Regions from separate parts of the Homo sapiens genome. Here region 2 is linked to region 1. Evidence: fine-mapped QTL for protein levels in blood plasma. A gene starts in region 1. The other region holds a variant in brackets. All regions are shown on one strand. Distances are between the middles of the regions.

Region 1 (8,691 bases):
GCTGGCTCACGCCTGTAATCCCAGCACTTTGGGAGGCCGAGGTGGGTGGATCACTGGAGGTCAGCAGTTTGAGACCAGCCAGGCCAACATGATGAAACCCTGTCTCTACTAAAAATACAAAAATTGGCCAAGTGTGGTGGTGTGCATCTGTAATCCCAGCTAATTGGGAGGCTGAGGCAGGAGAACCACTTGAACCCGGCAGGTGGAGTTTGCAGTGAGCCGAGATGGCACCAATGCATTCCAGCCTGGGTGACAGAGTGAGACTCCATCTCAAAAAATAAAATTAAAAATTAGCCTGCTGTGGTAGTGCACACCTGTGGTCCAGCTACTCGGCTGGCTGAGGCAGGAGGGTCACTTGAGCCCAGGAGTTTGAGGCTGCAGTGAGTCAAGATCGCATCGCCAGCTGGGCATGGTGGCTCACATCTGTAATCCCAGCACTTTGGGAGGCCGATCACTTTGGGTCAGGAGTTTGAGACCAGCCTGGCCAACATGGTGAAAACTCGTCTCTACTAAAAATGCAAAAATGAGCTGAGCATGGTGGCGTGCACCTGGAATCCCAGCTACTCAGGAGGCTGAGGCAGGAGAATCACTTGAACCCGGGAGGCGGAGGTTGCAGTGGGCCAAGATTGCACCACTGCATTCCAGCCTTGGCAACAGAGTGAGACTCCATCTCAAAAAAAAAAAAAAAAAAAATCACATCAGCCTGGGTAACACAGCAAGACCCTATCTCAAAAAAATAAAAATAGAAAGAGGATAGGACCAGACTGGCACAGAGTAGGGATCACACTGGCTGCTGGGGGCACAGGCTGGGAGGAGTGGAAACAGGTGCCAGGACAGAAGCTGAGGGCAAGTAGGATAGGCAGGTCTCCTGTGGCCCCTCTGCTGCCCTTATGAGAGGTGGGAAACAGGCCTGGGGCCACCTCATGGCATCAGAGGCTCACCTGTGCGCTGAGCCAACTGCCTGAGGAGGCCTGGTGCTCAGCCTCCCTCACCCCCGTTCCATCGTCCCAGCCAGCCAGCCACTGACTCAGGAGCTGAGGCCGAGTGGGCAGGAAGTCAGGGAGGGCAGGGCTGGCTCCTCTGACAGGTCAGGCCAGTCTTCCTTGCCTCAGGCAGAGCCATCTGGACAACTCTGCCAGGCAGGGGCATCCTGTCTGCCGTGGCACGGGCCAAGAAATGGGGTCATGGCACCCAGCCCCAAAGGTTGGCCAAGTGTTGGCATGGGCCTGACCCCAGGCTGTGTGAAGAGAGCCAAGCTGGGTCTGGGTCTGGAACATGGTACATGAGCCCCAGCCAGGCAGAGGGCCAGAGGTGGTAAGAGGTATTGCCGGCACCTCTCCTGCTGGAATCTGGGCCTGCCACTGGGAAGGGCTCTGACCCTGACCCAGGTCCAGGGGTCTGTCCCAGGCATAAAGTTATAGAAGGTCTAAAGCCCAGATCTGCCCCCGCCCCTCAGCCAGGTCCCAGGAGCTAGAAGACAACCTCAGTACCAACTGGGAGGCACGAGCAGTTTCAGCCTCCGGATAAGCCCCGCCAGCTCTCCCAGGACTCCTGTGATTAGCACCGAGGGGAAGCACCAAGGGTGTGCTTGCTACAAGGAGCAGCTGCAAGGCTCCTCCTCTGTCCTCCCCTCCAGCCCATCCCTCCCGCTCAGGCCCCTTCCCACCAACCCAGACATTCTGCCATTGCGCCAGTTCAAAGCAGGCTGGGTCCCTTGGATCTGTCCCTATCACCCAGGCTGGAGAGTTAGTTAGGATCCTTTGACCCCCCTCCACCCCCACAGCCCCTAGCTCCCCCGCTGTGTGCAGACTGCTGGTAACCAGGTTCTAAAGGCGGGTGGCACCTTGAAACCATACAAGGCAATGTTGGATAAACTGAGAGGGGTCTCCTAAAAGCTTCCCTTGAGCCTCTGGGTAAGTGGGGACCTGTGTAAGGCCAGGGCACAGGATTGGGGCAGGGGGTGAACACCAGGCAGATGGGGTCTCTCCGTCTACAAGAACCTGCCACAGAGGTGAGAAGCTTCAAGGACATCAGGAGGTCCTGTTCCTTGAGGAAAGCCAGGCTGGAGGCTCTTGGAGCCCTCTTTACCCCTGACCCTGGGCATCTGTGGATGCTTCTGAGGGCTTCAGAGGACACAGGGCCAAGGGAAGAGGCAGGGAAACAGTCCGACAAGAGGCTGCACAGCACTGATTGGAAACTCAGATGGTTCTGGGGCCGGGCAGGAAACTCAAGTGAGTGGACAGCTTGGCAGGAGGCAGCAGGGAGTGGTGGGGACTGGGGTGACCCATGAGCCCACATTTTGGCAGAGGGAGCAACCGCCACTCAGCCCCAGCTGAGAGTTCCTGTTCAATGCAAGCTGGGAAGCCCCATTTTAATATGAAACCACCTGATTTTTCAATGTTAGCAGTGCCTTCAAAGTTGTAAAAACTCCCATAAAGCCTGCACTAAATGCACCCAAAGGCCAGCCCCAACCCAGGAACAGAGGTCCGCAAGCCATGCCCTAATCCATGTAGACCGAGAAACGTATGGGTTGTGGAGCCCTGCCAGCCCTGGAAAGGGGCCCTGTGGGGAGAGGGCCCTGTGGACGGGAGGTCCAGAAGGTGACTGTCCCAGCCAGGCCCTGCTTAGCCCTTGACGGCTAGACACAGAGGCCATCCTGCCTTCTGGAGATAACTGAGTCCTCCAGAGACTAGGAAACCCTCCAGCTGGTGTGGCCCAGCCTCCCAGGGATAAGCCTTCAGGCCCCCCAAAGACTAGAGCTAGCCCAGCCAAGGGCCTTGGCTACAGGCCGGGCTGGAGGGGGTGTGGGTGTCCCAAGGCTCTCCGGAAGTCAGGAGCTGAGCTGGGCCCCCAAAGGCTCTGAGGCATGACTGACCACAAACGCGGAGGGGGAGGAGGGCAGAGTGTTTTCCTGGAATCCTCCAAGGCAGGGGATTTTTCTGGACTAGTCCGGCCCCTGGCACCCGCCCCTCCTGCCCAATCAAGGGCCACTGTCAACTGCAGCCCAGGCCCCACCCACCGACGGTGACCACCCCTATGCCTCCACAGCTCAGGCTTGAAGCTGCCAGTAACTGTGGGGCCGTGGGCAGACCACCACTGCCCTCCCTGACACAGCCCCTTCATCTCATAATATGGTGGGGAAGAGAGTCCAGGGCTGCTCACAACTCTTAAGGCTGTCGTGGCTAAGAGGACCCTGAGCTCAGATTTGGCATTGGAGTTTATACTTAGGAGGCTCTTGAAAGGGCTTTGTGTGGGCTGCCAGGAGTTTTTTGAAATTGGGATTAGCTACCAACAATAACACATTGAGAGATTTCACCTAAAAATCTGGATTTCCAGTTTCTCTTCAAAAATCCAAAGCTCTAGCTGGCCCGGGCTGGTCATGAGGACTCAGCCCTTACCAGCCCCACTCCCGCCATCCTGCCTCTCCAGGGCCGCAGAGGCCCTGGGGTGGACTTCTGGCATTTGTCACCTGCCTGGTGCCTCATAGGCATCTGGGCTGTGACGCTTAGGATTCCTAAATAGTCTCTCGCTTTTTACACAAAAAGCAGAAACCTGCCCAGTGTCATCCGGCAAACCCACGACGGGCAAGGTCTCCCCGCGCAGGTCAGGTGGCCGCAGGGTGAGGGCCAGGGCAACCCGGCCCACGAGCCCCTCGGTGGGGAAGGGGCGTGTCTCCACGCGGCTCCGCCCCGGCCAATGGGGAGAGGCCCCGCCCCTGCCGCGGCGGGCCCGCCCCCCGGGACTCTTAAGGCGCGACCTGCCTCCAGCGAGCCGACTCCGGAGCCCGAGCCCGGGGCGGGTGGACGCGGACTCGAACGCAGTTGCTTCGGGACCCAGGACCCCCTCGGGCCCGACCCGCCAGGAAAGACTGAGGCCGCGGCCTGCCCCGCCCGGCTCCCTGCGCCGCCGCCGCCTCCCGGTGAGTTTCTGTGGGGCTGGGGGGCTGCGGGCGGGGAAGGGGGCGCCACGGCCAGGCTGTGCACACGCGCGGGGACCGCCGCCGCGCGCACACACGCACTCTCGGGCGGGACCGCGGCCCCAGCCCCACACGGTCACCTGGGCCGCCCGGCGGGCAGGCCCTGTACGCTCCCTCCCCCGCCGTCCTGGGGCGCCGACAGCCCCGCGGCCGGCCAGGGTGCGCGCCTGAGTGTGCGGTGAGCCCGCGAGGCTGCAAGCAGACAAAATAAACACCCCGTCCCATGCTTCCTCCTCCCACGGCTGGGCCTCCGGCATGACCAGTTTTATGAATCAAACCCCTTTGAGGGGGATAGCCAAGCCACAGGCTTGGGTCACTTTTCCCTCCTGGGGTCCGGCAGTAGGTGCTGCTGTGCAGAAGGGCTGCCCGGGGTCCTCTGGACCCTTGTCACTCAAAGCACAGCTGGGGGCTACAGATATGCAGCCCTAGGGAGGGGCGGGGAGTGGCTGGTGGGCGTCCGATGCCCATCCCTCCAGGTGGGGGATGGACCTGTACTGGCCAGGGCCCTTAGAGCTTCGGGTATCAGGCAGGGTGCCGGGTCTCTGCCTCTGCCAGGGAAGGGGCTTTGCTTGGGCTGCAAACCCAGTGGCCTGGAGCCAGCCTAGTCCTTTGTGTCCCTGGGCTGGCAGTGCTGGGGCCTGAGGACTGCTGAGGTCCCCTGTGGTCACTGGCAGGCCAGCCGATTGGTGCCAACCATTCTGCCTCTCCCCCATTCGTTAACGATTGCCACACCAGGGTCACTGACCGCCTCCCCTGCTGTGGCCCAGGGGTGGAGTGTGCAGGGTGGAAGGAAGAGGTCCTGGGGGTCTAGGTGTCCCCATGCCTGCCTTTTGCACCAAGGACAGGTGAGGCTCTGGAGAGAGGCAGCGGGACCTAGAGCCCCCTTCCCCAGGCTGAGAGCCTCCAGGGCTGGGGATTGGATAAAATCTCCAAGGTCCCTTCACACTAGACTGTACTTTGGGTGTTGAGGGCATAGAGGGGTGGCCGGGCTGGGACCTTCCAAGCAGGGTCCATTAGGGCCAGTCCAGGGGGCAGCAAAGTCCAGGATGGGCCCAGCTATTGACAAAAACCCAACAGAGCTGGGGCAGGCGGGTGGGGGATGGGGAGCAGTCCCCTGAGTTTACTCTCTTCTCCCAGGGGAGTTGGCCTGGAGCTTCTGTAAACAGAGTGTCAGAGGCAGGAAGAGGCTCTGGTGATGAGCAGCCCAGCTGGATCCCCTCCAGACCATTATCTAGCCTCCCCTGGGCCTGGGGAGGGAGGATGCGCACACACATGCCAGCCTGGGGGCCGGGCACTGCCTGTCCCCACCCCGCCCCTGTCTCCTGCACGTTGGAACAGCTGTCCTGCTACCTGTGGGTCCGGAGGGTCAGATGGGGATGGGGCTGGGGGCTGGGGTCCCAGGGCATTTGTCCAGATGGCACCTCTCTCTCCATATTCTGGGAATGGGAGAATGGGATTCAGCATAAGGAGCCTCTCAGACACTGCCCAGACCTGTGCTTACCCGAGGAAGGCCCCTCTGGCACGCAGCCCAGGGGCCAGGGAGATGGCAAGGGAGATGCCCCGGGCAGGAGATGGGTCCGCGGCTCCTAGCTCCCATTACTGTCACCCCCACTGACAGCCCCGGGGGAGCTGGGACAAGTCCCAAGTACAGAAAATTAAGTCCTTGCCTGGGCTTATAAGTGGGTCCCAACACAACACTGGGCAGCCTCTGGGAACAAGAAAGCAGGGCCCTGCTGAGCCCAGGAGGGAGCTCCCACCTCAGCAGGCCAGACAGCCAGTCCTGCCAGTGAGCAGAGGTGTGTAGAGGGGAGGCTGCCCACAGGGATGGCTATCCCTGACCACTGGCCAGCCCTGAGCTCATGGGAGGGCAGCAAGGCCACCTAACTCTGTTAGTGACCTCTCCTGGACCCCCCATCAGCTGCCCTTAGAGTCCCCTCCCTGGGCTGGGGAGCCCAAGGCTCTGTGCTGCCAAGAAAACCAGCTCCCCTCACTGCTGTGGAATTTGCGTGAGTTCTTGGAGAAGGGGGAGGGTGCACGTGTGTGTGTGTGTGTGTGTCTGCAGGAGCACTGCCCAGTGGGCGTGTGTCTGGCGTGGGCGTGTCTGTGTGCGCGTGACTGGAGCAGGGCTGTGTATTTGGGGGTGGGTGGGGGTGTTTGGGGGAGCCTGCTTGCACCAGGAGGGGCAGGGCCTCAGCCTCCTTCCTTTTATCGGTTTCCACATTCCAGAGTCAGCCGGATCGCTTTCCCTCCGCGCTGGGCCGCCGGCCTCCCCCGCTTTTCCTCATTCCAGCCTCCCTGGGTGTGAGGAGGCTGGAGGAGGCTCCCTCAGGCCACCTCGGTTTTGGGCAGGGGGTGGGGGCAGGCGAGGGGCCAGTTATTCTTCAGGGTTCGGGACGGCCCCCACCAGACTCTTCGTGGGGAATGCAATAAGGTTCTGACATTCCTCAGGGGCTGCCTGAGAGATTTAATTAAGGAGGGAGGAGGGAGCCGGCCTACACCGGGAAGGGGCTGGGGCGGCCGCTGGGGCCCCTGCTGGCCCTGGGCCCCGAGCCCGGCTGGGCATTGAGAGCAGTGCGGGGGCAGGGTTGTGGTTCAGTGGCCAGGTCCTGTTCTGCCTCCCTGAATCCATCCCGCCTGCCCATTGATCAGCTCACAGACCCCAGGGGCGCCATTTCTGCCACGGGTTGGCCAAGAACCCTGGGTGATTGTGGGGGGTTCGGCATGGGGAGCTTGAGAAGGGCAAGACCCCTTCCAGGGCCACTTCCTTCTCAGACCCCCAGGCCCAGGAAGCTTAGGGCTGGCGGCCTTCCTTGGTGACTAAGGTGTTCTTCTGGCAAGTTCAGGGTTAATTGCAGGTTAGGGCCTTACTAGATGGGTGCTTGCCCCTGGGTGGGGACAGGGCAGTGAGGAGGCCCCGTGTGAGGGCCCAGCCCTGGTGGCATCACACCTGCCGCGTGCCGAAAGTGGCATCTGGACTGGCCCATTTCTAGTTGGGCTGCAGCCACTGCACAGCTCCCAGGGCCACAGGTGTCCTCCCTGACAGGTTGCACCTCTTGTGACTACGATGGCACGTCCCACCGCCCCAGGGGCTCACTTGAGCTGGGGCCTGGCCTTAGTCACTGGTCTCCCTGCCCTGGGCTAACAGGTCTGGCAGCTGCCAAGTCACCCACGGTGCTACTGAAGGCACCCACCTGGGGCCGGGCCAGCCTCCTGGGTGGAGGGAGGAGGGAAGACCCTGTGCCTGCCCCTCTCCCAGCCCTGCCAGCTGGTCCACACCTGCTCCAGGATACAGAGCCTCCTCCCTGCACAGGAAGACGAGCTGACATCCTGACTGTCCCCTTTGCAACCCTCTGTCCTGGTGTTCTGAACCCTGGCTGTGCGGAGGACTCGCTCAAGGAGCTTCTCCAAAATACAGCTCTGCCTGGGTCTCACTCCTAGACATTCTTTTTGTTTTTGAGATGGAGTATTGCTCTGTCACCCAGGCTGGAGTGCAGTGGCGCAATATTGGCTCACTGCAAGCTCCGCCTCCCAGGTTCACACCATTCTCCTGCCTCAGCCTCCCAAGTAGCTGGGACTACAGGCGCCTGCCACCAGGCCTGGCTAATTTTTTTGTATTTTTAGTAGAGACGGGGTTTCACCATGTTAGCCAGGATGGTCTCGATCTCCTGACCTCGTGATCGTCCTACCTCGGCCTCCCAAAGTACTGGGATTACAGGCGTGAGCCACCATGCCCGGCAGAATTTCTTGTTTAATTGGCCTGGGGGTGGGGCCCCAGCATGGAGGTTTTTTTTAGAAAGCTTCCTGGATGATTCTGATGTGCAGCCCGGCGGGCAAAGCCCTGGCGTCACAGGTGGGAGACGGAAGCCCAGAGAGGGGAGCTTGCTTGGATGAGGTCACAAAGCGTGTGAGTGCCTGACTGAGCTCCTGGCTGTGGCATTATCTGTGGAATGAAGAGCGCCAGCTTGGGGTGGTGGATGGAGTAAGAAAGAGGCTGACACCCATGGGGACCCCCGCTCAATCACCAGCCAGGGGTCCCCGCGCCTATAGGGAGGGTCTACCTGCCGCAGTCCCTGAGGAACTCGAGGCCCAGCCCTCTCTGCCCCTTCTGTGAGGGCCCACGACCCCTGACCTCTCTGCCCTGCCCTTGGGACTGCTGTGTCCCAAGGAAGGGGAGACGGGGCGGACCCAGCCGGGCCCTGAGCCTCCTCGGACACGTCAGCGAAACTGGAGCCAGCCGTCCTGGCCGCCGGCACAGTCCCGCCTGCCTGGAGGGGTTGGCAGACTCCCGGGGCTGGGCTGCTGCCAGGCCTGACCGGCCACACAGAGCCTTGGCGGGCCAGCATGAGGAGCGGGGGCCCGGAGTCTCAGGGTCAGACCTGCAGCGCCTGTCCTGCACCCACGCTGAAGCATACGGCACAGGAGGGGCGTACTGGCCTCAGACTGTCTATCTGTCTGTCCAAGCCTGTCCCCTACTCAGCAGGCACACCGCCTGCCCCAGAATCAGTGAGATGTTCTCGCCAGGGGCTGATGTGGTCACCAGATGCCTGGGTCCCACCCCAGCCATGCTATCCCCTGGCCCGTCCCCGCCTGACCCTGGGCGTGTGTGGTGTACCCCAGAGGTGGGTGGGCGTCCCCCTGGGAGTTGAGATGACGAGTGCCTTGTCCTCCTTACTCATAGGGCCCCTCCCTGAAGTCCTGTGCTGAAGGGGCCGCCA
Region 2 (8,628 bases), 61 kb after region 1:
TCATAACCTGCCATGGGCAAGTTTTATATCAGGTAGTGTACACAGGTGAGAGGTGGCATCCTTCAGGGTACGTGCTGTTTTCACAGATAGAGTCATCAACTGGTTGGGCGGGGTGGCTCACGACTGTAATTCCAGCGCTATGCTGGCGCTGAGGCAGGAGGATCACATGAGCCTAGCAGTTTGGGACCAGCCTGGGCAACATAGGCAGATCCCATCTCTACAAAAAGATTTTTTTTTTTTTTTTTTTTTTTTGAGACGGAGTCTCACTCTGTCGCCCAGGCTGGAGTGCAGTGGCACGATCTCGGCTCACTGCAAACTCCGCCTCCCGGGTTCAGGCCATTCTCCTGCCTCAGCCTCCCGAGTAGCTGGGACTACAGGCACCTGCAACCGCGCCCAGCTAATTTTTTGTATTTTTAGTAGAGATGGAGTTTCACTGTGTTAGCCAGGACGTCTCGATCTCCTGACCTCGTGATCCACCCGCCTCCGCCTCCCAAAGTGCTGGGATTACAGGTGTGAGCCACCGCGCCCGGCCAAGATTTTTTTTGTTTGTTTGTTTGAGACGGAGTCTTGCTCTGTAGCCAGGCTGGAGTGCAGTGGTGCGATCTCGGCTCACCATGATCTTGACTCACCGTGATCTCGGCTCACCGCATCCTCCGCTTCCTGGGTTCAAGTGATCCTCTTGCCTCAGTCTCCTGAGTAGCTGGGACTACAGGCACGTGCCACCACTCCCAGTTAATTTTTGTATTTTTAGCAGATACTGGATTTCACCATATTGGCCAGGATGGTCTCGATCTCTTTACCCATGATCTGTCCACCTCAGCCTCCTAAAGTGCTGGGATTACAGGTGTGAGTCACCGCGCCCGGCCTACAAAAAGATTTTTAAAAATTAGCTGACTGTGGCCGGACATGGTGGCTCACGCCTGTAATCCCAGCACTTTGGGAGGCCTATGCGGGCGGATCACCTGAAGTCAGGAGTTTGAGACCAGCCTGATCAACATGGAGAAACCCCGTCTCTACAAAAAATACAAAATTAGCCAGGCCTGGTGGCGCATGCCTGTAAACCCGGGTACTCGGGAGGCTGGGGCAGGAGAATTGCTTGAACGTGAAAGTCGGAGGTTGCCGTGAGCCGAGTTAGCGCCATTGCACTCCAGCCTGATCAACAAGAGCGAAACTGTGTCTCAAAAAAAAAAAAATTAGCCAACTATGGTGGCAACTGCCTGTACTCCCAGCTGCTTGGGAGGCTGAGGTGGGAGTTTCACTTGAGCCCAGAAGGTTGAGGCTGCAGTGAGCCATGATGATGCCACTGCACTCCAGCCTGGGCAACAGAGTATGACTCTTTCTCTACCAAAAAATTAATAAAGTCATCAACTGAGAAGCCATGTGGTGGCGAGCCTCTATAGTCCTAGCTACTCAGGAGGTTGAGGTGGGAGGATTGCTGGAGTCCAGGAATTTGAATTTGGCCTAGGCAACATAATGAGACCCCTGTCTCTTAAAAAAAAAAATTTTGAAAAGGTCATTAACTCAGCGTCCAAACACTAGTCTGTGATCTTGTCTCAAATCTAGTAGTAAGATGACATAACAACATTTTAGATGTGACTTTTCTTCCAAGCAGAAAGAAAGCAGTTGTTGGTGGCCAGGTATGGTGGCTCATGCCTGCAATCCCATTACTTTGGGAGGTGGGTTGATCGCCTGAGGTCAGGAGTTTGAGACCAGCCTGGCCAAGATGGCCAAAGCTTGTCTCTACTAAAAATAGAAAAAGTTGGTCAGGCGTGGTGGCGGGTTCCTGTAATCCCAGCTACTCGGGAGGCTGAGACAGGAGAATCGCTTGAACCCAGGAGGCAGAGGTTGCAGTGAGCCGAGATCGCGCCACTGCCCTCCAGCCTGGGCAACAAGAGCCAAACTCCCTGTCAAAAAAAAAAAAAAAGAAAGCAGTTGTTGGACAGTGGGTTGGCCATTCTTAGAACGACTTGGAGGCTTATTTTATTCTGGGTTGTTCTAAAAAGGACAGGACATTTACTGGTCATATGTGATAAAATAAATAGTCTATTAAATGAAATCTAATTATTGTTAATCATTGATGCCCTATGGATAATGTCAAAAGTCATCAGACTGGGGATGGTGGCTCATGCCTGTAACCCCAGCACTTTGGTAGGATGAGGCCGGCGGATCACTTGAGGTCAGGAGTTCGAGACCAGCCTGGCCAACATGGTGAAACTTCTTACCTACTAAAAATACAAAAATTAGCCAGGTGTGGTGGTGTGCGCCTATAGTCCTGGCTACTTGAGAGGCTAAAGCAGAAGAATCGCTCGAACCTGGGAGATGGAGGTTGCAGTGAACCGAGATCACACCACTGCACTCCAGCCTGGGTGACAGAGTGAGACTCTGTCTCAAAAAAAGAAAAAACAAAGCCATCAGTCTTGTAATTAAACGTGATTTGTCTTTATCCACATGCAGTTTTGTGCGTTACTATCTCTGTACTAACTCCTGTCCGTGTTCTCTGCCCGTAATGTTGAAGCCACAGCTGCCACAGGTCACTACCAGCCTCCGCCTTGTGGCATTGGAATGAGTGGTGAGAGAGAGGCTGGACTGGGCCGGGCAACCCCTTACTCCGAAATAAAAAGAGGGTTGAGTACAAGTTCAATAATAAGTCAGGTCTAGTGTTTTCTCAAGTCTGACTGAAGAAACACAAAGTGGTCTCCTGACCCCTACTACTTCCAGTGTGCTTTTTGTATCCCGAGGATATTGGGTGTGCCAAACACACGGATTTATTTCCTATTTCTAATTTTAAGTATCCTGACCATTCCTATCCATTCTCCTGTCTGATCATCCTTTACCTGGCCTCCTACTTGGATGTGCTCAACCAACCTCTGGTTGTGTTTTGTGCTGATTAACTTCGAGTAGTCTCCCAGGCTTCCTAGAGTTGTTTCTCTTTTTTTTTTTTCAGGTGGAGTCTTGCTCTGTCGCCCAGGCTGGAGTGCAATGGCGCGATCTTGGCTCACTGCAACCTCAGCCTCCCAGGTTCAAACAATTCTCATGCCTCAGCCTCCCAAGTAGCTGGGATTACAGGCGTGCACCACCATGACCGGCTAATTTTTGTATTTTTAGTAGAGACAAGATTTCACCATGTTGGCCAGCTTGGTCTCGAACTCCTGACCTCAAGTGATCCACCCGCCTCGGCCTCCCAAAGTGCTGGGATTACAATAGGCGTGAGCCACCTTGCCTGGCCTAGAGTTGTTTCTCATGCAAACCTAATGGGTTCTTTGTTTAACATTTGCAGTGGCTCCCTATTGCTCTTAGGATAAAATCCAGACTCCTTAGCATAGCTCTAAGGCCCTTCCTATTCCTAGGCCCCATTAATCGTTATCATCTCTAACCACCACTACCACCACTGCCATCTAGTTTAGTTATAGGTATAAATCTGTATGGATTCAAAGTCCTCTTTAGCCTATTTCTGTCTCTCTCTCTTTTTTTTCCATGTCATAAGTTTATTTACAAACATCTAGTATGTCATATAAGTTCAAGTCTTTGATCCATTTATTTATTTATTTTTAATAGAGACAGGGTCTCTGTGTTGCCCAGGCTGGTTTCGAACTCCTGGGCTCAAGCGATCCTCACGCCTCAGGTTCCCAAAGTGCTGGGATTACAGGCGAGAGCCACTGTGCCCAGGCTTATTTTTCTTTCTTTTTTTTTTTCTTTTTTTTTTCTGTGATGGAGTTTCACTCCTGTTGCCCAGGCTGGAGTGCAATGGCGCGATCTTGGCTCACTGCAACCTCTGCCCCCCAGGTTCAAGCGATTCTCTTGCTTCAGCCTCCTTACTAGCTGGGATTACAGGCATGTACCACCACATCCGGCTAATTTTGTATTTTTAGTAGAGATGGGGTTTCTCCATGTTGGTCAGGCTGGTCTCTAACTCCTGACCTCAGGTGATCCGCCCGCCTTGGCCTCCCAAAGTGCTGGGATTACAGGCAGGAGCCACCATACCCGGCCCGGCTTATTCACTTTTTAAACAGATTTCATCTATTAAAACACCTCCAGTCTGGGCGTGGTGGCACACGCCTGTAGTCCCAGTTACTTGGGAGGCTGAGGCAGGAGAGTCGCTTGAACCCAGCAGGCGGAGGTTGCAGTGAGCCAAAATCGCACCACTGCACGCCAGTCTGGGCAAGAAGAGCGAAACTCCGTCTCAAAAAACAAAGAAACAAAAAGCCTGCCGGGCACGGTGGCTCACGCCGGTAATCCCAGCACTTTGGGAGGTCGAGGCAGGCGGATCATGAGGTCAGGAGATCGAGACCATCCTGGCTAACACGGCGAAACCCCGTCTCTACTAAAAATATGAAAAAATTAGCCGAGTGTGGTGGCAGGCGCCCGTAGTCCCAGCTACTTGGGAGGCTGAGGCAGGAGAATGGCGTGAACCCGGGAAGTGGAGCTTGCAGTGAGCCAGGATGGCGCCACTGCACTCCAGCCTGGGCGACAGAGCGAGACTCCATCTCAAAAAACAAAAAACCTGCTCTTCCTATCTGTTAAGTGGATGAACTAAAACATCCTTGTTTCTTAAGCAGTTGGTGTCTTGCTATTAAAAAAGGTGCTGTGAATCCAGATCCAAAGTACAAAGTCATCCTAGTTAGTAACCGCCATTTGTTTTCCACTGAAAGTGGCAAATGCTTTCCTGGGCAGCTTAGCCAGTTTCTGCAGCTTAACAGCTGATGCCTAGAAGTTCTTCCCCGACCTTCTTAGATTGATTTGTCATTGGTTCTCAGCAGGGGACACTTTTACTTCCCAGGGGACATTTGGCAATGCCTGGAGACGGGGAGTTCTCTACTGGCATCTAGTGGGTGGAGACCTCCTGAGTTTCTGGTGAATGTCTGGAGTAGGGCTTGAACATCTGTGTTTTCATCAGTCTAATGATGCTGTTGGTCCAGGGAGCGCAGTCTTGAGAACTGCTCCTTAAGTAGATACCCAAGGCTGCAAGATAGAGGGAAAAGAATGTGGGGAGTTGTTAAGCATTAAATGTGACAGAAAAATATGAAAATATGAAAATACCTAGCAAATGGTAAGTGCTCATGTGGCATAAGAGGGGGGAGCTGAATCCCTTTTTAATCATCTCCCAGTCAGGAGTATTATTCCTTTAGTGGTTTACTGAGACCACTCCAGTAGTATAAGCGAGGAGAATCAGCCTCATCCAATACTCTGACATAGTTTAATATTAATTGAATACTGTGGCTTCCTTAGCCATTATTGAAGTGCATTAGGGAACAGCCCTAAAGCTGTAGCCTGTGTATTAGTCTGTTCTCATGCAGCTAATAAAGACATACCTAAGACTGGGTAAATTTTAAAGGAAAGAGGTTTATTTAACTCACAGTTCAGCACGGCTGGGGAGGCCTCAGCGATCGTGGCGGAAGGGGAAGCAAACACATCCTTCTTAACATGGCAGCAGGAAGAATGAGCAAAAGGGTGAGCCCCTCATAAAACTATCAGATCTCATGAGAACTTACTATCGCGAGACCAGCATGGAGGTAACCGCTCCTGTGATTCAGTTACCTCCCATCAGGTCCCTCCCATGACACGTGGGGATTATGGGAACTAAAATTCTAGTTGAGATCTGGGTGGGGACACAGCCAAACCTTATCAGTTTGTTTGTTCCTTCACAGATATAGCCTGGTGGGTCATGTACTCACAGTTTTCTTTTGTTGAGAACATTCCCAGAGTGATTTTCTTTGTTTTTTCCTTTTTAGGAACAAAACATAACCCTTTCATTTGTACTGCCTCCTTCCACACGAGTGCCCCTTTGGCCAAAGAAGATTATTATCAGATATTAGGAGTGCCTCGAAATGCCAGCCAGAAAGAGATCAAGAAAGCCTATTATCAGGTCTGTATGGAAGTCAGGTTTTGGTGACCAAATTGTAGTAGGAATGTTGTTGATCCCATGTGATCCTGATCAGTACAGCGTATGTGCCCATATGAATAGGTCTCATGAGCTGATAGTATAGAAGGGTGTGATAAAGCTGGACTTTGCTAGACTGTTTTTCGATGCACAATGCTGTAGAGGTTGGTGCTTCAGAAAAAAGAGGTGAGTCCAAACCAGAGATTTTAAGAAGTTTTTTTTTCTAGAGCTGTTTTCATAATTAAATTTAATCTGTATTTTCTGAATCAGTAGATATGCTAGTCTAAGTTTTAGGTAGTTATTTTTTGCATCCAGATAAAAGTTTAGAGGTTTAGAATTACTTCCTTTCCTTTCTTTTTTTTTTTTTTTTTTTTTTTTTTTTGAGATGGAGTCTCACTCCATTGCTGAGGCTGGAGTGCAGTGGCGCAATCTTGGCTCACTGCAACCTCTGCCTCCTGGGTTCAAGCAGTTCTCCTGTGTCCGCCTCCCAAGTAGCTGGGACTATAGGCACCTGCCACCACACCCGGCTAATTTTTTTTGTATTTTTAGTAGAGACGCGGTTTCACTTTGTTGGTCAGGCTGGTCTTAAACTCCTGACCTCAGGTGATCCACCTGCCTCAGCCTCCCAAAGTGCTGGGATTACAGGCGTGAGCCACCGCGCCTGGCCCTTTCTTAACCTGGAAAATGTGAAATTCCCATTGTATCCCAGGGTCTATTAGGGTAGTTAGGGTAGCTGAGTAAAGTTGTATACGAGATGTCTACACCACTGGTTCCTAGACCCTTGGTTTGCTCTGACCAACAAAATAAAATCAATATTGGAGGCACCATTGTAGGATTGACAGCTTTTTATAAGTGCACAGTTCACTGGAGTTGTGCACCTGTCACCACAGTCAACTTTAGGACATTTTCATTACCTCGAAAAGAAACTCTGTATTCATTAGCACTCCCCTTCCATTGTCCTCTCTCCCCGGTCCCTAGCAGCTGCTAATCTGCGTCCTGCCTCTTTGGATTTGCCTATTCTCAATATTCATATACAGGGAATCATACAATATGTATCCTTTTGTGTGTCTTGGCTTCTTTCATTCACATAATGTTTTCAGGGTTCATCTGTGTTATAGTTTGTGTCAATACTTCATCCCTTTTTATGGTCAAATAATCTGTTGCATGGATTAATCACATTTTGTTTATTCATCGTTTGATGGACATTTGGATATTTTCCACTTTTTGCTATCATGAACAGTGCTGCTATATAGACATTCATATGTAAGTTTTTGTGTAGACATGTTTTCAGTTCTCTTGGATATTTAGGAGTATAGTTGCTGAGTCATATGGTAACTGGATGTTTAACCTTTTGAGAAGCTGCCAGCCTTTTTCAAAGCAGCTGCACCATTTTACATTCCCACCAGCAGCATATGAGGGCCATGATTTCTCCACATCCCAGTGAACACTTAACTATTATCGTCTGTCTTTTTAATTACGACCCTAGTGAATAAGAAATGCTATCTCGTTAGAGTTTCGATTTGCTTTTTCCCTGATGACTAATGATGGTGAGCATCTTTCTTGTGCATGTTGGCTATTAGTATGTCTTTGGAGAAACGTGTGTTTGGATCCATTGCCCACTTTTAACTGGGTTGTCTTTTTTTTTTAATTGGGTTGTAATGGAATGAACAGAGGCATGGGGACAGGAAGCAGAGATCCTGGCCTGTGAAGAGCGAATGGCCTGTCTCTTCCTGAGCTCAAGAGTCAGGTGCCTGATCCAAGAGTGGGAAAAGATTGAAAAGATGGAGGCTGGGTTGGACTCACATGACAGTTGATTTGAGGCCCTTAGTAAGTCCCAGAGACATAATTTAAGAGAAAGACTTAATTTAGAGAACCATTCAGATTTTTAGGCA[C/T]GGAAGTAAAAAGATCAGGTAAAGCTGTAGCAATTACTGTATTTTATTTACCTACAAAAATAATTGAAACAGCAGAGACGTCTATTTATTCAGTCATTTTCTTCCCTTTTTAAAAATTTTTTCTTTTTTCAGACAGAGTCTCGCCGTGTGGCTCAGGCTGGAGTGCAGTGGTGCAGTCTTGGCTCACTGCAACCTCTGTCTCCTGGGCTCAAGCAATTCTCCTGCCTCAGCCTCCCGAGTACCTGTGTTTATAGGCGCGTGTGACCATACCTGGCTAATTTTTGTATTTTTAGTAGAGATGGGGTTTCGCCATGTTGGCCAGGCTGTTCTCAAACTCCTGACCTCTGGTGATCCACCCAGCTCAGCATCTCAAAGTGCTGGGATAACAGGCATGAGCCACTGCGCCCGGCCCCCTTTTTAAAAATTTGTTTTTCTTTTTTGTTCATTTACCTATTCTAAGCCATGCTGGGTGCTAAGGGCAAAGATACATCAGAATCAGTTCCTGCCCTCAAGTTAAGAGATGGATACATTAAAACAGATCATTATTATTATTATTTTGTGGGGCGGACAGAATCTCACTCCGTCACCTAGGCTGGAGTGCAGTGCCTCGATCTCTGCTCACTGCAACCTCCACCTCCCAGGTTCAAGTGATTCTCGTGCTTCAGCCTCCTGAGTAGCTGGGACCACAGGCATGTGCCACCACGCCTGACTAATTTTTTCTATTTTTGGTGGAGAGGGGTTTCGCTGTGTTGCCCAGGCTGGTGTTGAACTCCTGAGCTTAAGTGATCTGCCTGCCTTCACTTCCCAAAGTGTTGGGATTACAGGCGTGAGCCACTGCACCCAGCCGAGAGACAACTT

Direction of the effects. Alleles are on the strand shown, and positions count from the first base shown. The strength of an association depends on the size of the effect and on how common the allele is.
With allele T in place of C in region 2, the plasma level of the protein whose gene starts at base 3,774 in region 1 is higher (weak association).

Evidence for each region. PIP is the posterior inclusion probability: the model's chance that the variant is causal. Protein levels are from antibody-based Olink assays in UK Biobank. Linkage for the fine-mapping came from a reference panel and not from the study's own genotypes, which makes the PIPs less certain.
Region 2: its variant is fine-mapped to the plasma level of the VASN protein (UK Biobank, PIP above 0.99).

Annotation. Positions count from the first base shown.
Region 1 is chr16:4,368,075-4,376,765 of GRCh38, forward strand. VASN (vasorin) reads left to right here and starts at 3,774. Exons shown (of 2, transcript NM_138440.3): 1 at 3,774-3,919. The region is part of intron 9 of CORO7-PAM16 (CORO7-PAM16 readthrough); the gene reads right to left. The region is part of intron 9 of CORO7 (coronin 7); the gene reads right to left. RefSeq lists enhancers at 1,080-1,579, 3,156-3,981, 6,589-7,368, 7,462-8,243, 8,244-8,691.
Region 2 is chr16:4,428,655-4,437,282 of GRCh38, forward strand. DNAJA3 (DnaJ heat shock protein family (Hsp40) member A3) reads left to right here. Exons shown (of 12, transcript NM_005147.6): 2 at 5,730-5,863. Among named protein-coding and RNA genes, the nearest start is that of DNAJA3, 7.1 kb to the left of the region's middle. The variant C/T (reference allele first, on the strand shown) is at 7,771.